2 separate regions of the Homo sapiens genome follow, and region 2 is linked to region 1. Evidence: fine-mapped expression QTL. Tissue or cell type: skeletal muscle. Region 1 holds a variant in brackets; the other region holds the start of a gene. All regions are shown on one strand. Distances are from middle to middle.

The links. PIP is the estimated chance that this variant, and not a neighbour inherited with it, causes the effect.
Region 2: it holds the start of CCDC125, and the variant in region 1 is fine-mapped to the expression of CCDC125 in skeletal muscle (GTEx, PIP above 0.99).

What each region holds. Positions count from the first base shown.
Region 1 is chr5:69,282,917-69,288,735 of GRCh38, reverse strand. It overlaps CCDC125 (coiled-coil domain containing 125), which reads left to right. Exons shown (of 12, transcript NM_176816.5): 11 at 3,269-3,399; 12 at 5,702-5,819. Among named protein-coding and RNA genes, the nearest start is that of CCDC125, 47 kb to the left of the region's middle. The variant T/C (reference allele first, on the strand shown) is at 2,813.
Region 2 is chr5:69,330,774-69,335,773 of GRCh38, reverse strand. CCDC125 (coiled-coil domain containing 125) reads left to right here and starts at 2,973. Exons shown (of 12, transcript NM_176816.5): 1 at 2,973-3,125. It also overlaps the pseudogene CHCHD2P2.

The sequences.
Region 1 (5,819 bases):
AAGCACAGAGTTGTCTCTGCTGCTCCTGACTGACTGGCTGTATGTACATTGGGACTCCCATGACGCCCTCCTCAGGCTCCATTGATTTGCTAGGATGCCTCACAGAACTCCGGGAAACACTTCCGTTTACCAGTTTATTATAAAGGATCTTACAAAGGATGCAGATGAACAGCCAGATAAAGAGATGGACAGGGCAAGGCACGTGGGAAGGGATGCTCTCTTTGGCGTACCACCCCTCAGGAACCTCACATGCTCAGCTATCTGGAAGCTCCCCAGACCCTTTTGGGTTTTTATGGAGGCTTCATTACATGGACACGGTACATCACTGGCCATTGGTGATTACATCATTGGCCATTGGTAATCAACTCAACCTTCAGCCCCTCTCGCTTCCCTGGAGTTTGGGGGCTAGGGCTGAAAGTTCCAGCTTTCTAATCACAAGATTGGTTCCCCTGGCAACCAGCCCCCATCCTGAGGCTATCCAGGAGCCCATCAAGAGCCTCATTAGAACAAAAGATGCTTCTATTACCCAGGAAATTCCAAGGGATTTAGGGGCTCTGTGTCAGATGCTCCTAGCACTGAGGAAATTACAGTCTTAAGAATTGTGTGTTAGGAACTGGGGTCAAAGACCAACTATGAGAAAAGATTCACCTAACACCCCTATCTACTAGGATTTTAGGAGCTCTATGTCAGGAACTGAGGGCAAAGACCAAATATATATTTCTTATATTACAATATCACATTCAGCTATTGACAAATCTAAGGAAGATTCCCACAAAAAATGCAATTCAGAGGGGTATAGCTCCCAATCTCTGAGTTCCAGTAAGGCACTGAGAGAGACTGAAGGCAGAATTTTAAATAATTGATATAGGCAGGGCACAGTGGCTCATGCCTGTAATCCCAGCGCTTTGGGAGGCTGAGGCAGGAGGATTGCTTGAGCTCAGGAGTTTGAGACCAGGCTGGGCAACATAGGGAGACCCTGTCTCTATTAAAAAAAAAAAAATAGCCAAGTGTGGTGGTAGATACCTGTGGTCTCAGCTACTAGGGAGGCTGAAGTGGGAGGATCGCTTGAGCCTGGGAGGCTGAGGCTGCAGTGAGTCATGATCCCACCACTGCAGTCCAGCCTGGGTGATGGAGCAAGACCCTGTCTCAAAAAAAAAAAACCACCAAAAACTGATGGCCGGGTGCAGTGGCACGCCTGTAATCTCAGGACTTTGGGAGGCTGAGGTGGGTGGATCACTTGAGGTCGGGAATTTGAGACCAGCCTGACCAACATGGAGAAACCCTGTCTCTACTAAAAATACAAAATTGGCTGGGTGTGGTGGCACAAGCCTGTAATCCCAGCTACTCGGGAGGCTGAGGCAGGAGAAATGTTTGAACCCGGGAGGCAGAGGTTGTGGTGAGCCAAGATTGCGCTGTTGCACTCCAGCCTGGGCGACAAAAGCGAGACTCCATCTCAAAAAAAAAAAAAAAAATTGATTAATCTCGCACAGCTTTTATAAATCTATACAAGTTTGAGTAGTTCTTTCTCAGTTTCTCAGTGACAAGACTTTAATTCATTTTATTAGTATATTTCAGTAATCTTAAGAGGTACAGGGTGATACAGATTATTTTATGTTTAGTAACACTTAATATCAACTTTCTTTTTGATATGGCAGTTTAGACAAGTTTCCGGAAGTAGTTTATAGGCATACTTCTTTCTTTCTTTGTATTTTTGCTTTTGGGTTTTTTTTTTTTTTTTTTTATCTTAAACTCCTGGGCTTAAGCAATCCTCCAGACTACCAGCTTGAGCCATCACACCAAGCTATTTCTTTTTTTAGACTGAAAATAGGGACACAGATTCATCTACTCATCAAAGTGTCAGTTTCTCTGACTTCTGTTTGCCACAGCTCCTCGTGGAAGGGGTCAGGGCCGCCCTCGTCACTGTGGTCTGTCAGGATTGGTGGGAAGGGGATCTCCCCTCATCTGCTCTCAGTTTCCCACTAAACCACTTTTGGAGAATATTCCAAAAACATTCTTGAAATTTTCCTTGTACAATCTGAGATTTTATAACTTCTGCAAATTACTTTCCTTCAATGGATGAAGAAGGACATCAATGATGTCAGCACGTGAAATATTAAATATTATGCTAATACCTGAGCAGGGCCTTTGACAATTGTGGTATTTTTTGTTGTTGTCGTGATGGTGGTAAAATATATCTAAAGTTGGCCGGGCGCGGTGGCTCACGCCTGTAATCCCAGCATTTTGGGAGGCCAAGAGGGGGCGAATCATGAGGTCAGGAGATCGAGACCATCCTGGCTAACACAGTGAAACCCCATCTCTACTAAAAATACAAAAAAATTAGCCGGACGTGGTGGCGGGCGCCTGTAGTCCCAGCTACTCGGGAGGCTGAGGCAGGAGAATGGCGCGAACCCGGGAGGCGGAGCTTGCAGTGAGCCGAGATTGCGCCACTGCACTCCAGCCTGGGTGACAGAACAAGACTCCATCTAAAAAAAAAAAAAAATTATATATATATATATATATATATATATATATATATATATATATATAGTTTACCATTTGAACTGTTTTTAAGTGGTATTAAGTATATTCACATTGTAATGTAACCTTCATCACCATCCAGCTCCAGAACATTTTCATCTTTCTTTACAGAGACCCTGTCCCATGAAACAGTAACTCCTCACTTCCCCTTCTCCAGCCCGTGTGATTTATTATTTAATGGCACAGTTCCCTGAGAAGAAGGTAATGCTATTCTCATTTTAGAGATGAGGAAATCAAGCTGAGAAAAGTCACCCGAGGTCATACAGTTAGTAAG[T/C]GGCTGAATGAGGATTCAAGTCCAGGTCTTTGCTGTTCGGAAGCAGAGTTTGCATGGCTCAGAGGCCCCCTGTGGCCTGCAGACATGTTTTGTTAGGTTGGCTTAGTGTAGTCAAACAATAAGACTAGTGGCTGACATTTAGAATTGGAAGATGTCATGACAGATCTGCATTTCTGGCTGCTCTTGAAGACTGTGATGATCCAGTGACATGGACTGTGTTCTTGTGTGGCCTGTGTGTCAGCTGGCACAGAGGGGTGGCTGTGCCGCATGGCAGGGCGGCACTCTTGCTGCCTCTCACCTGCATTGCTCCTGGCTCTGAAGGCTGTGCTCTGCTCACTACATTCCACTGTGTGCTCCTGGACTCACTTGTCCTAGAGATCAAGTTACCTCTTTTGCTGGAAGTATATCAGTGAGGATATTTTAATGTCTCAGCTGGATTCTCATGTTCAATTTTAGGATTTCCATCACCAAGGAGTAAGAAGACCTTCGGGCAGAGACTGTTGGGTATGCTCCCTTCAGAAAACAGTTCTAAGAGGATGGAAGACCAGGACAGTCCTCAAGAGGTCCTTAAGATGCTCATAGATTTGGTTAGTGTCTTTGCTTTTTTTTGCAGGTTATGGTTAAGCCAAGCTTGTCCAACCCACGGTCCGTGGGGAGCATGCAGCCCAGAACAGCTTTGAATGTGGCCCAACACAAATTCGTAAACTTTCTTAAAACATTATGAGATCTTTTTGATATATATATATATTTTTTTAGTTCATCAGCTATCATTAGTGTTAGTGTATTTTTTTGTTTTGTTTGTTTTTTGGTTTTTTTGTTTGTTTGGTTTTTGAGACAGAGTCTCTGTCACCCAGGCTGGAGTGCAGCGGCGCGATCTCGGCTCACTGCAACCTCCACCTCCCGGGTTCAAGCAATTCTCCTGCCTCAGCCTCTAGAGTAGCTGGGACTGCAGGCGCCCACCACCACGCCTGGCTAATTTTGTGTGTGCGTTTTTAGTAGAGACAGGATTTCACCATGTTGGCCAGGCTGGTCTCAAACTCCTGACCTCAAGTGATCTGCCCACCTCGGCATCCCAAAGTGCTGGGATTACAGGCGTGACCCACCATGCCCAGCCAGTGTTAGTGTATTTTATGTGTGGCCCAAGACAATTCTTCTTCTTCCAGTGTGGCCCAGGGAAGCCAAAAGATTGGACACCCCTAGGTTAAGCTAATCTATTTGCTTCCTGTTAATTCAACTCTTTATCTCTCTAGACTTGCACTTGCCTTCTATGTCCTTTTCCCAGTTGGAGTACCAGACTCTACCTTCATGATCTTTATCTCCCTCAGCTCATCTTTTCTCGTCATTCATATTCTTTCTGTGCAGGTTTAAAGGCTCCATCTTGGAAAACAGGGGGCTCCTGTAGTTAACTCCAGCCAGCTTTGCCATCTACATTTATATATATACAGTTTGTGACAAGTCTGCCTGTTTATTGAGGCATTTTTAAAGTGTTCAAGGCATTTCCTCACACATTATATCCTTTACAGTCCTGCTACCCACATTCCACATGGAATGACTAAACTAAGACACTGAGACTCAGGTTATATGAACATACTTATCTCTAGACTGTTATATATTTGCATACAAATATATGAAAGCAATTTTATATACAAATAACTTCAACATTATTTTATAAATATGCACGTTGATATATTTTTTATATGTTGATATTATATACCTATATATACACACTTCATATAGATCTATATTTTCCCTTCATTTCCAGATGACTTGCAAAATTTTCAATGCTGTCTTCTGTTTTTTTTTTTAAAAAATTATTTTTAAAAAATAATCGTCGGGGCTGGGCACAGTGGCTCATGCCTGTAATCCCAGCACTTTGGGAAGCCGAGGCGGGTGGATCATGAGGTCAGGAGATCGAGACCATCCTGACTAACACGGTGAAACTGTCTCTACTAAAAATACAAAAAATTAGCCAGGTGTGGTGGCTGGCACCTGTAGTCCCTAGCTACATGGGAGGCTGAGACAGGAGAATGGTGTGAACCCAGGAGAGCGGAGCTTGCAGTGAGCCAAGATCATGCAACTGCACTCCAACCTGGGTGACAGAGCGAGACTCTGTCTCAAAAAAAAAAAAAAATTGTCAGCCTGGCATGGTGGCACACATCTGTAATTCCAGCACTTTGGGAGGCCGAGGCGAGTGGATCACTTGAGGCCAGGAGTTCGAGACCAGCCTACAAAAATTAGCAAGGTGTGGTGGTGCACGCCTATAGTCCCAGCTACTCTACTCGGGAGGGTGAGGCCCAAGAATCACTTGAGCCTGGGAGGCAGAGGCTGCAGTGAGCCAAGATGGCATCACTGCATTCCAGCCTGGGCAACAGAGCCAGACCCTGTCTTAAAAAAAAAAAGAATTGGCCGGGCACGGTGGCTCACGCCTGTAATCCCAGCACTTTGGGAGGCCAAGGTGGGCTGATCACAAGGTCAGGAGATTCAGACCATCCTGGCAAACACAGTGAAACCCCGTCTCTACTAAAAAATGCAAAAAATTAGCTGGGTGTGGTGGCGGGCACCTGTGGTCCCAGCTACTTGGGAGGCTGAGGCAGGAGAATAGTGTGAACCTGGGAGGCAGAGCTTGCAGTGAGTGGAGATAGTGCCACTGCACTCCAGCCTGGGTGACAGAGCCAGACTCCGTCTCAAAAAAAAAAAAAAAAAGATTCATGAATAACATGTAGTATAATGTTTGGGGATCAGGTGATACCTAATTTATTCATACTGATGGACAGATCAGTATGAATATTAGGGTTGAATAACTTGATAAAATAGTACAATACTCCTTTCTCTGAATATATTCTGTGATTTATTGACTAACTTGTACATGTTTAATTTCTGTGCATGCAGCTTAATGATAAAGAAGAAGCTTTGGCTCATCAAAGAAAAGTTAGCTACATGCTTGCTCGGGCATTGGAAGACAAAGACACTGCTTCAAACGAGAATAAAGAAAAAAATCCTATAAAAG
Region 2 (5,000 bases), 47 kb before region 1:
CTGTTTCTTGCTCTAGGCTATTGCTCCATTTTTTTGTAGGTCATCTCCTGCCACTTCTTCTCTAGGGTAATGCTGTTTGCAATACACAGTTCCTTGTCTTGGTTTCCCAAGCATCTTAGTTCTGAAAGTGAGATATGGGCTTGTCTGGGACGTGGGGGACAAAGATCAGGTGCCTCCACAAGTGACTCTCCTCAGCTCCCAGCCAGCTGACAACTGCATGGACTGATGGTCTCTTTCTTTCCTTATCTGCATGCTGGTTTCCAGGACTTTGCGCACCCTGAAGGAGCCTCATATGACCCAGTAGTTTCATTCCTAGGCAGCTTTTATATCTTTTATCATTTTTCTAAGCTTAAGACACCTTTGGTCAGCCACGGTGGCTCACGCCTGTAATCCCGGCACTTTGGGAGGCCAAGGCGGGCGAATCACCTGAGGTCAGGAGTTCGAGACCAGCCTGACCAACATGGAGAAACCCCCTGTCTACTAAAAATACAAAATTAGCTGAGCGTGGTGGTGCAGACCTGTAATCTCAGCTACTCCAGAGGCTAAGGCAGGAGAATCACTTGAACCCGGGAGGCAGAGGTTGCAGTGAGCTGAGATCTCGCCACTGCACTGCAGCCTGGCAACAAGAGAAAAACTCTGTCTTTAAAAAAAAAAAAAAAGACTCCTTTTCTTTCCTCATTAATTTGGCGGCCACGTCTGTCCGGAACTTGTGGGACGTCCTCGTCTTCATCAGGTTGGCAGATACTCCAGCATGGCCTGCCGGCCGCCGAGGCCACCATCCACAGGCTCAAGGGCTCCGTGGTCGCTCCTTCGTGCTCCCGCCTCCAGAGGGAGCCAGACAGTGCATCCTTGCAGTGGACGCCGCCCGCCCGCAAAAGCCTGTTTTTCAATGACTGCCTCTACCTCTGAACCTCAGCTTAGATTTCTCTCTCTCTCTCTCTCCCTCCCTCTCCCTCTCTCTCTCTCTCTCTCTCTCTCTCCCACCCCCACCTCCTCTTTTTAAGACAAAGTCTTGCTCTGTCACCCAGGCTGGAGTGCAGTGGCGCGATCTCGGCTCACGGCAAACTCCGCTTGCCGGGTTCAAGAGATTCTCCTGCCTCAGCCAAGCAGCTGGGAATACAGGCACCTGCCACCACGACCGGCTAATTTTTTTTTTGGAAGAAAATGACTTTATTCTAATTAACTCACAAAGAATAAAATCATAACAGCTAGTTTAAGGAGGCCACACAAACATTTGCCCTGTCACAGATTCTACAGAGTAGGAACACCCCCCTTCCATTTCAATTCTGAAGCAAGGAAGCTAGGAATGACAGGAGAGGTTTAACTCATGGTTACACTTTATACCCTCACTATCAATTCTATTTTTATACTAAATTAACTTAGTTATGAGAGCTGATTTTCCATCTCTCCAGGTTGAACTTCTTGATTAGGCCAATCCGTTTGCAAGTCGGCACTGTTTCAGCACCTCATTGAAACCCTCACAGAGCTTGATGTCACCCTGGTTCTGGGCACACTCCAGAAACTGATCTCATAGAAGCAAGGCTGCTGCTGCTGTGCCGGCTGGGTTCCCTGAGGCTCCTGGTAAGTGATGTCAGGCCTCGCAGGCTCAGCATTACTTCCTCCCCTGAAAGCCCCAGTAATGGCGTGACCCACAGCAGAGCCCACAGCCACGCCAGCTGCAGTGGTTGCCATCTGGGCCATCAGACCTGGCTGCCGGGGCGCAGCAGCAGAAGAGCCAACTACAGATGGGGGTGCCGCTGCTGGTGGCTGAACGACTGGTACTGGCCTGGGTGCAGCTCTCATCTGAGGGGGCCTGGCTGGCCGGAGGGGCCATGCGGGAGGTGCGGCTTCGGCTTCCACGCGGCATCCTAGGTACGCGACGGCTCGGCCTCCGGACGTGTGACGACCGGCTAAATTTTGTATTTTAGTGGAGATGGGGTTTCACCATGTTGGCCAGGCTGGTCTCAAACTTCTGACCTCAGGTGATCCACCCACCTTGGCCTCCCAAAGTGCTGGGTTAACAGGCGTGAGCCACCGCACCTGGCCCGATCTACCCTTCTCTTACAGGATTCCTAGAGACTTAATATTTTGGTTTTGGTTTGTTTCTTTTTTGAGACAGGGTCTCCACTCCGTCGCCCAGGCTGGAGTGCAGTGGTCACTGTAGCCTGGATCTCCCAGGCTCACGGGATCCTCCCACCTGACGGCCTCCCGGCCTCCTGAGTAGCTGGGACTACAGGTACGCACCACCACACCCGCTACTTTTTAATTATTTTTTTTTTTTGAGACGGAGACTCGTTCTGTTGCCCAGGCTGGAGTGCAGTGGCACGATCTTGGCTCACTGCAAGCTCCGCCTCCCGGGTTCACGCCATTCTGCCTCAGCCTCCTGCGCAGCTGGGACTACAGGCACCCGCCACCACGCCCGGCTAATTTCTTGTATTTTTAGTAGAGAAGGGTTTTCACTGTGTTAGCCAGGATGGTCTCAATCTCCTGACCTCGTGATCCACCCGCCTCGGCCACCTAAAGTGCTGGGATTACAGGCGTGAGCCACCGCGCCCAGCCCTACTTTTTAAATTTTTTGTAGAGCGGGGTCTCACTATGTTGGCCATGCTGGTCTCGAATTCCTGGCCTCAAGCGATCCTCCCGCCTTGGCCTCCCAAAAGCTGGGATTACAGGTGTGAAACCCCGCGCCGGTCTGAACCTCAATGTTTGAACCACCAAATTTTACCTGTATTGACACAGGCCCCGTCTTGTTGTTTTTCTAAATCTCATGTCATTGTTTGCATATTGGTTACCCGTGGTTGGCTTTGGAGCTGAAGGTGGACAGAGCTAACATCAGGTTGCACACAGGAACACAGTGAGGTCGCGAAAAAGTAGCGCGAGCTGCCTCCATGGCCCAGGGCGACCTCACCGGCGTTTCCTGTCTGGGACTGCGCCCACGCGGTCACGTGGTGGCCCGGAGGACGCGCGGCGGCAGCGGCGCACGCGCACGGAGAGGAGGCTACTTGCCAGGTGAGCGAGCTGAGTGGGGCGCCGGGGCGGTAGGAGGGTGCTGTTCGCTGAGCTGGAGTCCGGGCTCCGGTCCCCGCCACGGACCTTGAGAGGGTACCCGGGGTCAGACCTGGCAGGTGGGAACCGGGAGTGGGGAGGACCCAGGGCAGGGGCGGGATGCGCAGATTCGTGGAAACTCTGCAGGTTGTGGACAAACTGCCCAAATCCTTTTCCCTGAATGCCAGTTTAATGGCCTCGTCTGATAAGAAAAAAATAAGAAATAGATTTCAGAGACCCTATTTCTCTCTCTGCCTCTCCACCTGCTTTACTTTTTTTCTCTTCTGTTAATTTTGAGCCTTATAAAACTATAGCGCCAGTATCCTGGTTTGGATCCTGAAACAGAAAAAGACATTAGTGGAAAAAATAATAAAGGCTGTGGTTTAGTTAATAGCACGTACCCATGTTAATTTCTTAATTTCGACAAATTGTACACAAATGTTGACATTAGAGGAATTTGGGTAAAAGGTACACAGGAATTCTTAGTACTATCTTTGCAATTTACTGTACATCTAAAATTATTCTAAAATGAAAAGTTAAGAAACAAAATCCTAAAGCAAAGTGCAGCAGGCCATTGTTCACCAGGGAGGGCTCAAGTTAGTTCCTCTTTGTCATGGAGTTAGGCATGTTTGACCAACTTGTTTGCTAAGGCAGAGTTGTCAGGCTACTGAATGTAGATTCTTCTGTCCAAAGGTTTCCGGGCAGGAATCGGTTTTCTCTTTCGATTCTGTCAAATATCTTTGGAACACATGTTGTGCATAAGCAAACGAGACACACAAAGTCTCTGCATAAGGGAATATACAGTCAGTCTAGGTCAGGTAGGAAGTAAGCACTATTAAAAAGATTCAGTAAAACCTCCCAGAACTGGGAAGACTCAGATGTGGAAGAAATCACATCTGGTCCAAGGGAGTCAGGAAGGCTACTGGAGGGAGTGCTGTCCTGAACTGAGGGGGCTCTGAGAAGAAACAGCATTCCTGGGGTGAAGAATGGCACCAATAGAGGCTTGCAGGTGACCAAGCTGAGCTGAGGGAGGAGCCCTGGGAGCAAGTGCAGTTCCTCTTACGTGGAAGCGCAGAGTACATCCAGGGAGTACTGCCAGATGAAACTGGAGGTGAAAACTGTAGCTTTGTTGTAGAAAACAGGGTGACACTTCAGTTGGATACATTATTTTTATTTTTATTTTTTTGAAACGGAGTTTCGGCTGGGCGCAGTGGCTCACGCCTGTAATTCCAGCACTTTGGGAGACCGGTGAGCAGATCTCCTGAGGTCTGGAGGTCTAGACCAGCCTGGCCAACATGGTGAAACCCCGTCTCTACAAAAATACAAATATTAGCCGGGCATGGTGGTGGGCGCCTGTAATCTCCGCTACTGGGGAGGCTGAGGCAGGAGAATCGCTTGAACCCAGGAGGTCTAGGTTGCAGTGAGCCGAGATCGCACCATTGCACTCCAGCGTGGGTGACAGACAATAGTGCTGTCTCAGCTCACTGGAACCTCCACCTCCCAAGTTCAAGCGATTCTCCTGCTTAGCCTCCCAAGTAGTTGGGATTAAAGGCGCCCGCCACCATACCTGGCTAATTTTTGTATTTTTAGTAGAGACGGGGTTTCACCATGTTGGCCAGGCTGGTCACAAACTCCTGACCTCAGGTGATCTGCCCGCCTCAGCCTCCCAAAGTGCTCGGATTACATGTGTGAGCCACTGTGCCCAGCCTACATTTTTTTTAAAAAGGAAAACAGGGTGACATTGACTACAATTATACATGCCATGGGAGCCATGGAATGTTTTACAGCAAGAGAGAGACATCATTCGGTTTGCACTTGGATATTATTGACTTGGCAGCAGTATGTAGGTTGGCTTGAAGTAGACCAATTAGGAAATTATCAGGCTAGCCTTGGGGAATTAAAGAGACGTTCCACCAGGGCAGTGAAATTAATGTGCAAAGAATGACATAGTTTGG